Regions from separate parts of the Homo sapiens genome. Here region 2 is linked to region 1. The links come from fine-mapping of genetic effects on gene expression. A gene starts in region 1. The other region holds a variant in brackets. All regions are shown on one strand. Distances are from middle to middle. Region 1 holds the start of LINC02034 (long intergenic non-protein coding RNA 2034). Region 2 overlaps RUVBL1 (RuvB like AAA ATPase 1).

What was found. PIP is the estimated chance that this variant, and not a neighbour inherited with it, causes the effect. A credible set is the group of variants that fine-mapping cannot tell apart.
Region 2: its variant is the best candidate, but not a certain one, in a credible set for the expression of LINC02034 in cerebellar hemisphere (GTEx, PIP 0.70).

Annotation. Positions count from the first base shown.
Region 1 is chr3:127,534,979-127,540,351 of GRCh38, forward strand. LINC02034 (long intergenic non-protein coding RNA 2034) reads left to right here and starts at 2,371. Exons shown (of 7, transcript XR_007096067.1): 1 at 2,371-2,458; 2 at 2,989-3,105; 3 at 3,374-3,531; 4 at 4,489-4,735; 5 at 5,307-5,373. LINC01471 (long intergenic non-protein coding RNA 1471) reads right to left here and starts at 2,802. Exons shown (of 7, transcript NR_125397.1): 1 at 2,695-2,802; 2 at 208-485.
Region 2 is chr3:128,113,867-128,119,239 of GRCh38, forward strand. All of the region lies in intron 2 of RUVBL1 (RuvB like AAA ATPase 1), which reads right to left. Among named protein-coding and RNA genes, the nearest start is that of RUVBL1, 7.3 kb to the right of the region's middle. The variant G/A (reference allele first, on the strand shown) is at 2,475.

The DNA of each region.
Region 1 (5,373 bases):
GACGCTGTATTTACCTAGTACTGTGCACCCTGAGTGGCTCCTTCCAGGAGTGAAGAAGAGTGCCGAGTTACCATTTCTTGTTTTAAGCTCTTGCTTCCATTATCTTCAAAACACATTTCCTTCACATGAAACTTCTTAAGCCACTTGCTCATTTTGTTAGGGTTAGTTTAATTAAAACCAGAGACTATAATCCACAAATCCACTTACCCAGGCAATTCGCTGAAACAGAATAGACCTGCATGGGCCCCTCTATGCTTCAGGCCTCCCCCTGCTGCGAGGGGATGTGGCTGTCCGAACACCAGGGCTGAGAAAGGACCTCCGGAGGGCGGTGCCGTCTTTACAGTAGGCATTGATCAAGCTGATTGCTTTCTTGTTGTGGAGTAACACAGGTACAAAATAGAAGTTCTAATGTTTTCTTCTCACACCCTGTGGTATTCATAGAAGTTCCAGCATATTTTTTGCAGCATATTCACCAGTGGCTTGGCCTGCATGGAGGGTTGGTGCTCCATTTTGGGGACCCCTGGGCTGGGTCCTCTGCTATCCTTCGCAAGGCTAACTTGTCCTCCAGGCTCTGGAGACTCGCCTGCCCCCCAGGAAGAGAGGCAGAGAACATGCACAGCATGCACTCGAGCCTGACTCCCCAGCTGCATCAGGACCCCCCCTCGCTCTGGTCACAGCCACCTTCCTCCCTTTGGTCAAACATGATGCTGACCATACCACTGGGTACAAGCGACCCCCTGAAGCCTCTGAGGGCAAGCTCCTGCTCTCTGTGCTCACGCTGCCCACACAGGCCAGTGCTGAGGGGTGCTGAGGATGCACGGTGGAGGAAGGAATGGGAGAAGAGTTTGGATCTGCTCTGAACACGCGGGGAGAAGACCTGCTCCTCTCTCTCACCACAGCCCACCATGCCCCAGCACACAGCTGTGTCTGCTGTACATCTCACACCTGCCCCTCCTGTCTTCCCCACACTCAGCCACCAGTCGGAAAGCTGTGACCCCTGCTTCCCAGCTTCCCCTCTAGACACCCCTGCACCCCCAGGACTCACGGCACGTCCCTGCTTAGATGCTGTCCATGGTTCCCCCACCGCGTTTAAAGGCTACACCTGCCCAGGCGCGAGGCTCACTGTTGGCCCTGGCTAGCTGCTCCCCCACCACCCCGCACTGGGCCTCCTTGCCCTTTTTGTCCTTGGAACCTTGGCACAGGCTTGGGATGCTCCCCAGCTCTACACAGCCACCCTGCTCCATGTCCCTTGGAACCTAGGCAGGGCCTCCTGCTGTAAGCCTCATGTGTTTCTCTTCTCTTTAAAGGCCGCAGTGTACCCACACACCCAGTGGGCGTTTGCTAAAGGCAGGCACACAAGAGCAAAGAAAGGGAAGGAGAAAGGAACAGCATGCCCTATCCTGGGAGGTGAGGCAGTGGGCAAGGCCCCAGGCTCTGGGCTGAAGGCGGCCTCTGCAATCCTAGGTGACACCAAGGTCCAGGTGGGGTGGGGGTGAGCGGCATACCTGATGGGCACAAGGGTGTGGACAGGGCTGGAAGCAACTGTCCCAGTGTGTCCTGCTTTCCCTCCCTGGGGGGTCCCTTGGGCATCTCAGCCTGGTGAGGCACTTTCCTCCCTCCAAGTGCTGGCACGTGACCAAGAGAGGGTGGCATCAGGAAGCACCTGTGCCTGTGTCTGTGTGAATCAGATCTGCCTGTCGCCGTGAGCTTTGTGTCTGCCTGGATTGGTGCGGGGGTGTGTGTGTTTGTGTACCGGCGTGTGATTGTTTTGGTTTGCTGTGATGAGTGTGGGTGTATTTCTGTGGGGGCCATGAGTGCTCTGTGGGGGTGTCTGCTGTGGGGGTGGGTCTGGGTCCCCACATGCCCGCGGAGCTGTGTGTAGGTGTCTGTGTGCTCCTCGAGCCTTCATGCTTCAGCTTCCCCCACCACAGCCCCGCCAGACCCTGCCCAGTTCCCCACTCTTTGCTCCCCCCAGTTCCCATCACCTAGCAACAACAGAATCAAAGCAGTGGCCTCTGCAGACAAAGAAGGTGTCTCTAGGAGGGAAGAGCTGGGAGGTGGGAAGTGGGGGAGGGGCCCCAGACCAGGCTCAGAGCATATCCTTGCTCCTGGCCTCCACCGCAGAAGGTGGCTCACCCCTCTGCATGGAACAGTCTCTCTCCATTCCCTCTACCCTGGCCTTCCTCCTCCTTGCAGGCCCCAGAAGCTGGAGGGGGCTGGTCGGGGTTGGGCTCACAGACACAGTGGTGGAGCTCACAGAAGTGCCCCCACCCACCAGGAGCCCAGGGTGGGCCTCAGCCAGCCGGGGGTAATGAGGCATGGGATGGACTCTGCGGGCACCAGGCCTGACCCTGAGTGCACCCAGGCGAGGGCGGGGGACACTCAGATCTGCCCCTCTCTGCAGGAACCTGGTTTCCCCACCCTGGAGGCCAGCGCCAAAGGACGTTCACGTGCAGCTGTGGGTAATGGGTGGGCCATCCTGAGGGTTGGGAATGGAACAGGCCCAGGTGCCTCCTCTGGCCCTCAATGCCCTGCAACCTGGCCTCTCCTGGGACTCCAGTCTCCCCCGCACACCCCTGCCCTGTCCCCACACTCCAGCCGTGCTGGCCAATGGGCCAGACTCTCTTTCTTGGGGTCTTTGCACCGCCCTCCCCTGCCCAGCACACCCTTCCTCCAGGTTGCCACGGGGCTCACGCCATCGTTCCTGTGGTCATGCGGTTGCCACCACTTGGGCAAAGCTGGTCCTGGCCACTGTATGGCGGCTCCCCTCCCCACCCACTCTGTCCCCCACCTCTGCATTATCTCGCCTGAGGCACTTAGCTCACTCTAAGATGGTCCTAGTTACTCCCTGATTGTCTATCCTCTGACTCACCCGTGATCTAATAATAAGCTCCATGATCTAATAATAGCCAGATTCATTTAGCACTTACTATGTGCCAGGCACCGTTCTAAGCCCTTGATGTCTTCTAACTCATTTTACCCTTGCAGCAACCACACAATATAAGAGCTACTGTCTCCAATTAACACTTGGGGACACTGAGGCAAAGAGCCTGGCTGAATATTGTGCCCGTGAAGACAGAGGGACAGCCTATTTTGTTTGCTGCTGTATCCTTAGCACCCAGCACAGGGAAGGGGTCCTGGTACATTTCTAGAAAAAATGGAGGGGAGCAGAGTCCCCCTGAGCACCTGGGGTTTGATGCCTCCCTGCCCAGAGCCCTTGCTATAGCATATGCTGGTGAGGGCCGAGGCTCTAGCTCACACTCCAGACCGGGGTAGGGATCCAATCTGGCTTTGAAGACATCATGCAGAGCCTCTGCTCTGGAGATGGGAACCTGCAGACAAATGCCTCCTTATCTCAATCCTCTGAAAACAGTTTGACCAGGGAGACAGCGTTCACTCATGAATTTAAGAAAAAAAAAATCCCTGATCCCTACTTTTTGCCAACTTCAATGCTGATTTCTAGTGGTACCAAGAAAAATGCAACTGAGCCTCCATCCTCAAGGGGCTCACAGTCTTGTGTGGAGATAAAAAGTGAGTGGTCATTCAGATTGCGGTGAAATCTCCCAACGACTGTCTTCTATTCACAGTTATCAATGTCCTGGAGCGGAGCTGCTGGGGAGGAAGTATGGGGAGTGGCAGGAGATGAGATTGGACAGGGAGGGACATCTCTGAGTTCCCAGCCAGAGAACTAGAGGGCAAACAGAGGCCATTCATGGTCCCATGCCACAGGAGTGACACATTCGCCTTTGTGCTTTCTAGCTGACTCCTGTGCAGGTGCAGGTGCAGGTGCAGGTGCACACACACACACACATGCCGTGTTAGTGGGGCTAGGTGCCACCTTACGAGGCCCCCAATGGAAAAAGGTTTAGGGCAGGGAGTCAGGGGTTTATACAACCATTGGAAGGGCTGGAACATCAAAAGTTGGGACTTGGAGTTTACTGCCAGCTTTCAGGGAAGTAGGATGTTACTGTTGCCTCCCAGGTCGGGAAACTGCTGAAAATTGCTGAAGATGTTCAAGGCTTTCTGTTGTTATTGCACTCAATAAATATTTATAGAATGAATGAGTGAGTGTTCACAGACTCTCATATATATTTATATCACATGGAACTAGTTTTTCCCCCAATAATTATTTATTAGAAAGGTGAATAAAATTATAAATAACAAAAACAATACCTTCACCATTAACTTAAAAAAATTCTAAATACAATTCTTTGGACTCTCTTGATCATTATTCTTATGAATACATAGGGATGCAATCAAAATAAAGAATATAATTTTGCATCCTAACCTTATTTGCTTAATTTTTAAATTTTGAAATAACCACAGATGTATAGGAAGTTGCAACGATAATATAAAGAAGTCCTTTGATGTCTTCATCCAGTCTCCCCCAGTGGTAACATCTTATGTAGCTATTCAATACTGAAGCCAGGACATTGACATTGATACAATGCACATGTTGAATTCTATGTCATTTTATCATGTGTGTAGATGCAGGCCTGCTGCAGATCCAAGTCCTGTGACCGGGGTCCTGCCCAAGGGTCCTGCTTCCCTAGGCATCCCAGAAGTTCAGCCTGCATCTCGACCAGAGCCTGAGAGTAGACACCTGCCGGTTTATCTGTCCCTTCATGTAGCAGGTGACAGAGGTGCCAGGGGCATGGCAGGGGTACTCTGACACAGCACTGCCCCACGGAGCCCATGTCCCAGGGCAGAAGACCCACGATGCACAGCCAGCCAGGTGAGAGAAGAAATGTCAGATACAGAACACAATGAAGAAGAAAGCCAGCTATGAAGGTGGCCCCGTCGCAGGCTAGGGTTGGGAAGAGACCCTGAGTTGGAGGTGAACATGCAGGACGTTACTTAGGGAGGGCTCTTGCGTTGATACTGTGGACAGAAAGGGCAAGAGAAGGCAGGGCTGGCGGGGAGCTGTGATGAGCTACAACAGAAGCCCCAGCAACGCAGGCAGAGATTCTGAAGATCGATGGCCCTTCAGAGGGCCCCGGGGAGCTGCACCGGTTGCTCATAGGGAGGGGAGCGACCTCAGTTGAGGCAGCTCTCTGCAGCTGGGTGTGCTGACTCCCGGCGGATGGGGCGGTGGAGCGGGGGGGGGGTCCGAGCACCCCCACAGATGCTGTCCAATTAGGAAGGCTTCTGTGATGCCTCATCTTGTACATCAACTTGGCCTGGCCACACTGCCCAGTTTCTGGTCAAACTCTGGTCTAGACATTTCCACAAATGTATTTTTTTAGATAGAAAAAATATTTAAGCCAATGGACCTTGAATAAAGCAGATTACCCTCCATCATGTAGGTGGCCTCATCCGATCAGTCAAAGGCCTCAATAGAACCAAGACTGACCTCTGCCAAAGAGAGAATTC
Region 2 (5,373 bases), 580 kb after region 1:
ATCTACAACCCATCAGAAATAATGAAGGAATGAATGAATGGATTGTTCATTTTATGTTATGTAGCCCACAAAGAGTGAAGAAGGATACCTCAAGTAGGATTTTGAAGCTATGAGTTGGTCTTAACAAGTTACACTTAAACACGCCCTGTGGTAAACTACAAATTGATTTTTGACAAGATAATTACAGCTGGCAAATGCTAAACAGAACCAGACTTCACAGGTGTACGGTCAAATGTCAAGTATGGCAAGCAAATGCTTTAAAGTTGGTACAGAACTGGGCAATGCCATGGCCTCTAAATGCCATTTTCATCTTTCCTCAACTCTGAAACAGGAGCACGAGTAAGGCCAGCTCCCCAGGTATATGGGCTAAGACTGAAAACAAGCTTGTTACTGAAGAACAAAGTGAAACTGAGACGGTGTCTTAAAATTAACAGTCAAGGTTCCTCTCAGATTTTCTTTTCTATGCCCTTTTGGTGATAGTTTTGAGGTAGTAAAATCTGGTAGAGAATCAGTGTATAGCACAGTATAAAATGCACTAGCCAGGAACAGAAAGATTAGTGCTGGTTCTGCCACTAATTTTCAGTGTGACCTTGGGCACTCAGCAAATCTCAGGTGCCCGATTTCCTCATCTGTCAAATGAAAGTACTAAAGTGCCATGCTAGATCACAAGTGGCAAACTCGTTGCTCACAGCCTGGTTCTGTTTGGCCTGCAGTCTCATGGTGACCTTCAGCAAGGCCGAGCACCTGGGGCTCAAGGCAGACACGCCACAGTGCACCCAGCCACTTCCCTCATCCCCGTTGCCTGCCTCATTAGGCATCTGCACTTGTGAGCTCAAGGCTGACACCTTGAAAACTGGTATTCTTCTAAGAGCAAAGGAAAAAAATCTCTGGAACATGAAAGGGCACAATGAGAGGAGCAGCACTCTAACAGCAGACTCCCCGTGGGGCCACAGGCTGGACAGGACCACCCCTTCCCAGTTACTCCTTTCTCTTCCTTGTATCTCTGCCAGCCCCAATTCCCTACCCTCAGTTTTGAACTTCAAAGACAGTGACCACATCCAATTCAATGGCACTCTCCCTCCCTTTAACTAATACAGAAGAGATGAACATACTTCCATTAAAATATGATAAATACTTGGTTAAAAAAAAAAAGCTTCATGTGTGTCTCGTTTCCTCCATTTAAAGACTTCCAGAGGGAAAGTATATGATATGGCTACTATTCCTACACCTACTACAGAGTGCTGCATAGACCTCATCGAATCTCCCCAACTAGCCTATGACCTTGATCATCTAGTTTGTATTTTATAGATTAAGAAACAAACTCAAAAGTTACCAACACACCCAAGGTAAAACCGCAAGCAGCAGCACCAGGATGCAAACCCCAATCTCCAAAGCCATTTTTTTTTGTACTCACCCCATGTGAGTGACAAGTGGCACAAAAAAGAGGTTGTTGCCAAAAGAAGGTTGAAGAAATCTCTATTTTTCAATCTCATCTGAATATCTCCTTCTTCTAAAACCCAAACCCATTATTAACAGTGTGAGGTCCTCAAGAGTGGAAATGCATATGAACCATGCATTTGCATCTCTAAAATAAGCAGTATTTCTGCCTGTCACCCAGGTAAGTTGCCTAAACTTTGGGACCCTGCAGCAAACCATTAAGCAGAAGTCACCAAATTCCTTCATACACATTGGAAGGGAGTGGACAAACTTATAAGGTAATACCACAGTGCTGAGCACTTCTCATATTTCCTGGGAGGAAAGCAATACAATATCACCAAAAAAAATGAAAGACATATGCTTCTAGCAATATGGCACACTGGGTCCACTGAAAACCTCTCCTCTTACAAAACACCTAGAATTGAATAAATAATAACATTCAGAGCAGTAAACTATTTGCCTTGAAAGTTCAGAGACTGTAGATACAGGAAAGCTCAGCAAGGTATAGCACTTAAGATAGAAACCCCTGAATAAAACCGGGACTGGGCACGGTGGCTCAAGCCTGCAATCCCAGCACTTTGGGAGGCCGAGGCAGGTGGATTGCTTGAGCCCAGGAGTTCAAGACCAGCCTGGGCAAAATGGCGATACCCCATCTCTACGAAAACTACAAAAATTAGCCAAAGCGTGGTGGTGTGCACCTGTAGTCCCAGCTACTCAGGAGGCTGAGGTGGGAGGACCACCTGAACCCAAGAGGTAGAGACTGCAGTGAGCCGAGATCACTGCACTCCAGCCTGGGTAACAGACCACTGCACTCCAGCCTGGGCGACAGACTGAAACTGTCTCAAAAAACAAACAAACAAACAAAAACATTACAATTAAAAAAAAAACATAAAAGAGGACTCTTGAAGGGCCACACATGAGTAAAAAAGGTGGGCCATAACAAAATACATCTGGGGGCCAGGCACAGTGGCTCACGCCTGTAATCCCAGCACTTTGGGAAGCCAAGGCAGGTGGATCACCTAAAGTCAGGAGTTCGA[G/A]ACCAGCCTGACCAACATGATGAAACCCCATCTCCACTAAAAATACAAAAATTAGCCAGGCACCTGTAATCCCAGCTACCCAGGAGGCTGAGGCAGGAGAATCGTTTGAACCTGGGAGGCAGAGATTGCAGTGAGCCAAGATCACGCCACTGTACTCCACCCTGGGCAAGAGAGCGAGACTTCATCTCAAAAAAAAAAAAAAAAGACATTATAACTTGTAACAATTTATGCAGTGTGTAATCTTTGATTGCATTTTGATATTCTGGTGTTTTTTAAAAAGCCAAAAACTGAAACAACTTGGAAAGATGTTTTCTGATTTCTATCACCTATATTTTCTTTTCATTAAAACAATTTAACTTCGTTGTCTTTGAAAGCACATTTGTTAACTGCTCATGGAATCATATGATGAGCTGCCAGGCTCCCTCATCTTTGTGATTTCTCTACCACAGTGGATATGGTTACCTACTCCTTTCTTTAAAGGTTCTCCTTTCTTGGTTCCTGAGACACCATTCTCTCCCTGGCTCTGCTGCTCATTTTTTAAAAATTAATTAATTTAATTTTTAATTGACAAAAATTGGGGGAATATAATAGCATTAGCAAGGTGGGTCTGATGATGGCACCGTGGTCATGTAGGAAGACATCCTTACAACTTACTGTCAAGTGGTTCAGAAATAAACTAGAGAAAAAGCAAATGTCACAAAATATTTATAACTGGCTATCTAGGTATAGGGTATAGAGGGGCTCATCACACTATTCTTTCAAGTTTTTTGTAGGTTCCAAACTTTTCAAAATGAAAAGGAAAAAAATATTCAATAGATTGGATTAATCAGTCACTTAATCATAGCTTAAGAGACAATTAGACTGGAACAAAGATCTAAAAGAAATTACCCATAATTTAGCAGAGTCAAAAAGATAACAAATATGAGAGGCTAAAAGACAAAGAGGACAAAACGAGAAGCTCTAGCCCAGGGTTTCTCAGCTTGACTCCATGACGTTTGTGGCCAGATAATTCCTTATTATGGAAACTGCTCTGTGCACTACAGGATGTTTAGTAGCATCCCTGGCCTCCACCCACTAGATGCCAGTAGCACCCCCAACCAAGTCGTGAGAACCAAAAATGTCTCCAGACGTTGTCAAAGTCCCCTGCAAGGGCAAAACTGCCCCAGGTTGAAAACCACTGCAATCTTAACCTCATCTCAGTGGAGTTCCAGAAGGAAAGAACAAAGAGAATGGGGAAAGGCAATAGCTGAAGAGATTAACGCTGACAGTTTTTTTGTTTTTTTTTTTTTTGAGACGTAGTCTTGCTCTGTCACCCAGGCTAGAGTGCAATGGCATGATCTTGGCTCACTGATACCTCTGCCTCCCAGGTTCAAGCGATTCTCCTAAGGCTGACAATTTTCCAGAATTGAGCAGAGACATAATACTCAGATTCAAGAAGCACAATTAGCATTAAGCATGATAAACAAAAATTAATCCACTCTGACATATAATAGTGAAACACCAAACCCAAAAATATCTCAAAAACATGCAGAAAGAAGACTCAAAACCCTCAAAATTAGACTTCTCAAAAACAACAGAAGCCAAAGGAGCAAATAACATTGAGAGAGAAGTACTGTGAAACAGTACTGAAGAAAATATCTGTCAACTGAATTATATAGCCAACATAGCTCTTTTTCAAAACAAGGGCAACATAATGAATGCAAACGTGAGAGACTTTCCCACCAACAAACTTCTAGAAGAAATTTCTAAATTATTTACTTTAGGAAGAAGAAAAATGGAGGGAAAGAGAAGGTCTAAGATATAAGGAATAGCAAGCAAATAAATGGTAAATGCACTGGACAAGCTAATGTTGCCTGGAGAGAGGTAACTGAAGCTCACATCTGTATGGCACTTTACAGTTTAAAAAACTGTTCACAATTTGCTTTTATATAGGAAGAGAAAAAACTGTTCACAAATATAGCACTTCTTCCTCTTGTAAGATACCAATATAAGATACACAATCAGTAATCATTTCAAAATTATAATGCAAGTCATTATCTTACAATCGATCAGTTTAATAATTGCTTGAAATAGGTAGAGTATGCTTTTGCTTAGAAAAGTTAAGGGACCTGCCTCAGGTCTCATAGCAAGTCAATACTAGAGCTGGAATTTAAAGCCCATTTCTTTTCACACACAACCCCAAGCTCCTACTTGCCCACATCAAGCGGCCCTTTTGAAGAATAAGCAAGCTCAAATTGGGAACTCTGGTGAGTTTCAAGTATCTGGCCAGTCCCCTCACGAATCCCAAGAAGCCACACGGTGTCCTCTGCCTGAAAGGCCCTTATCTTCCCTGCAAAGCCAAATCCTCTCCCAGCTCTGAAGGGAAAATGTCAAGTCTCAACCCTTCCAGCTGTACCAGCCCACAGTGCTGCCTCCTTAAATTCCAGCTGCATTTAATATTAGTCAATACCTCAAAGCTGAGCACTCATACTGAGTCCTCCTGTGCTGTCATGATTTCCTTTCTTTCTGCCCTGGAGAGACTGTAAGCCCCTTGAAGATAAAAATCATGTCTCTAATTCTTGTTTTCCTTTTTTTCATCTCCCACACAGCCACAATAGCGATGCGTAAAGCTAGCATTTGGAAGAATGCTTGACTCATTTTTTTGTCCCCTCAAGTAAGATGTCACTCAGAAGATCTTTATGAAGCCCTAGGCCAACAGAAATGTATTTCCACAGCAAAGGAGACTTGAAAGAGAAAAAGGACAAATTCTAGAGACAATGAGACCCCTTCAAGGACTTCATTCTTTCTTCTCTGGAGGTAGGCCAGGATAATTTGAATTTTAGAAGCAGGGATTTTAGATACCCAATTGTATTATTGCATATTAATTTTAAAAACATACATATAACCCATTTAGCTAAAC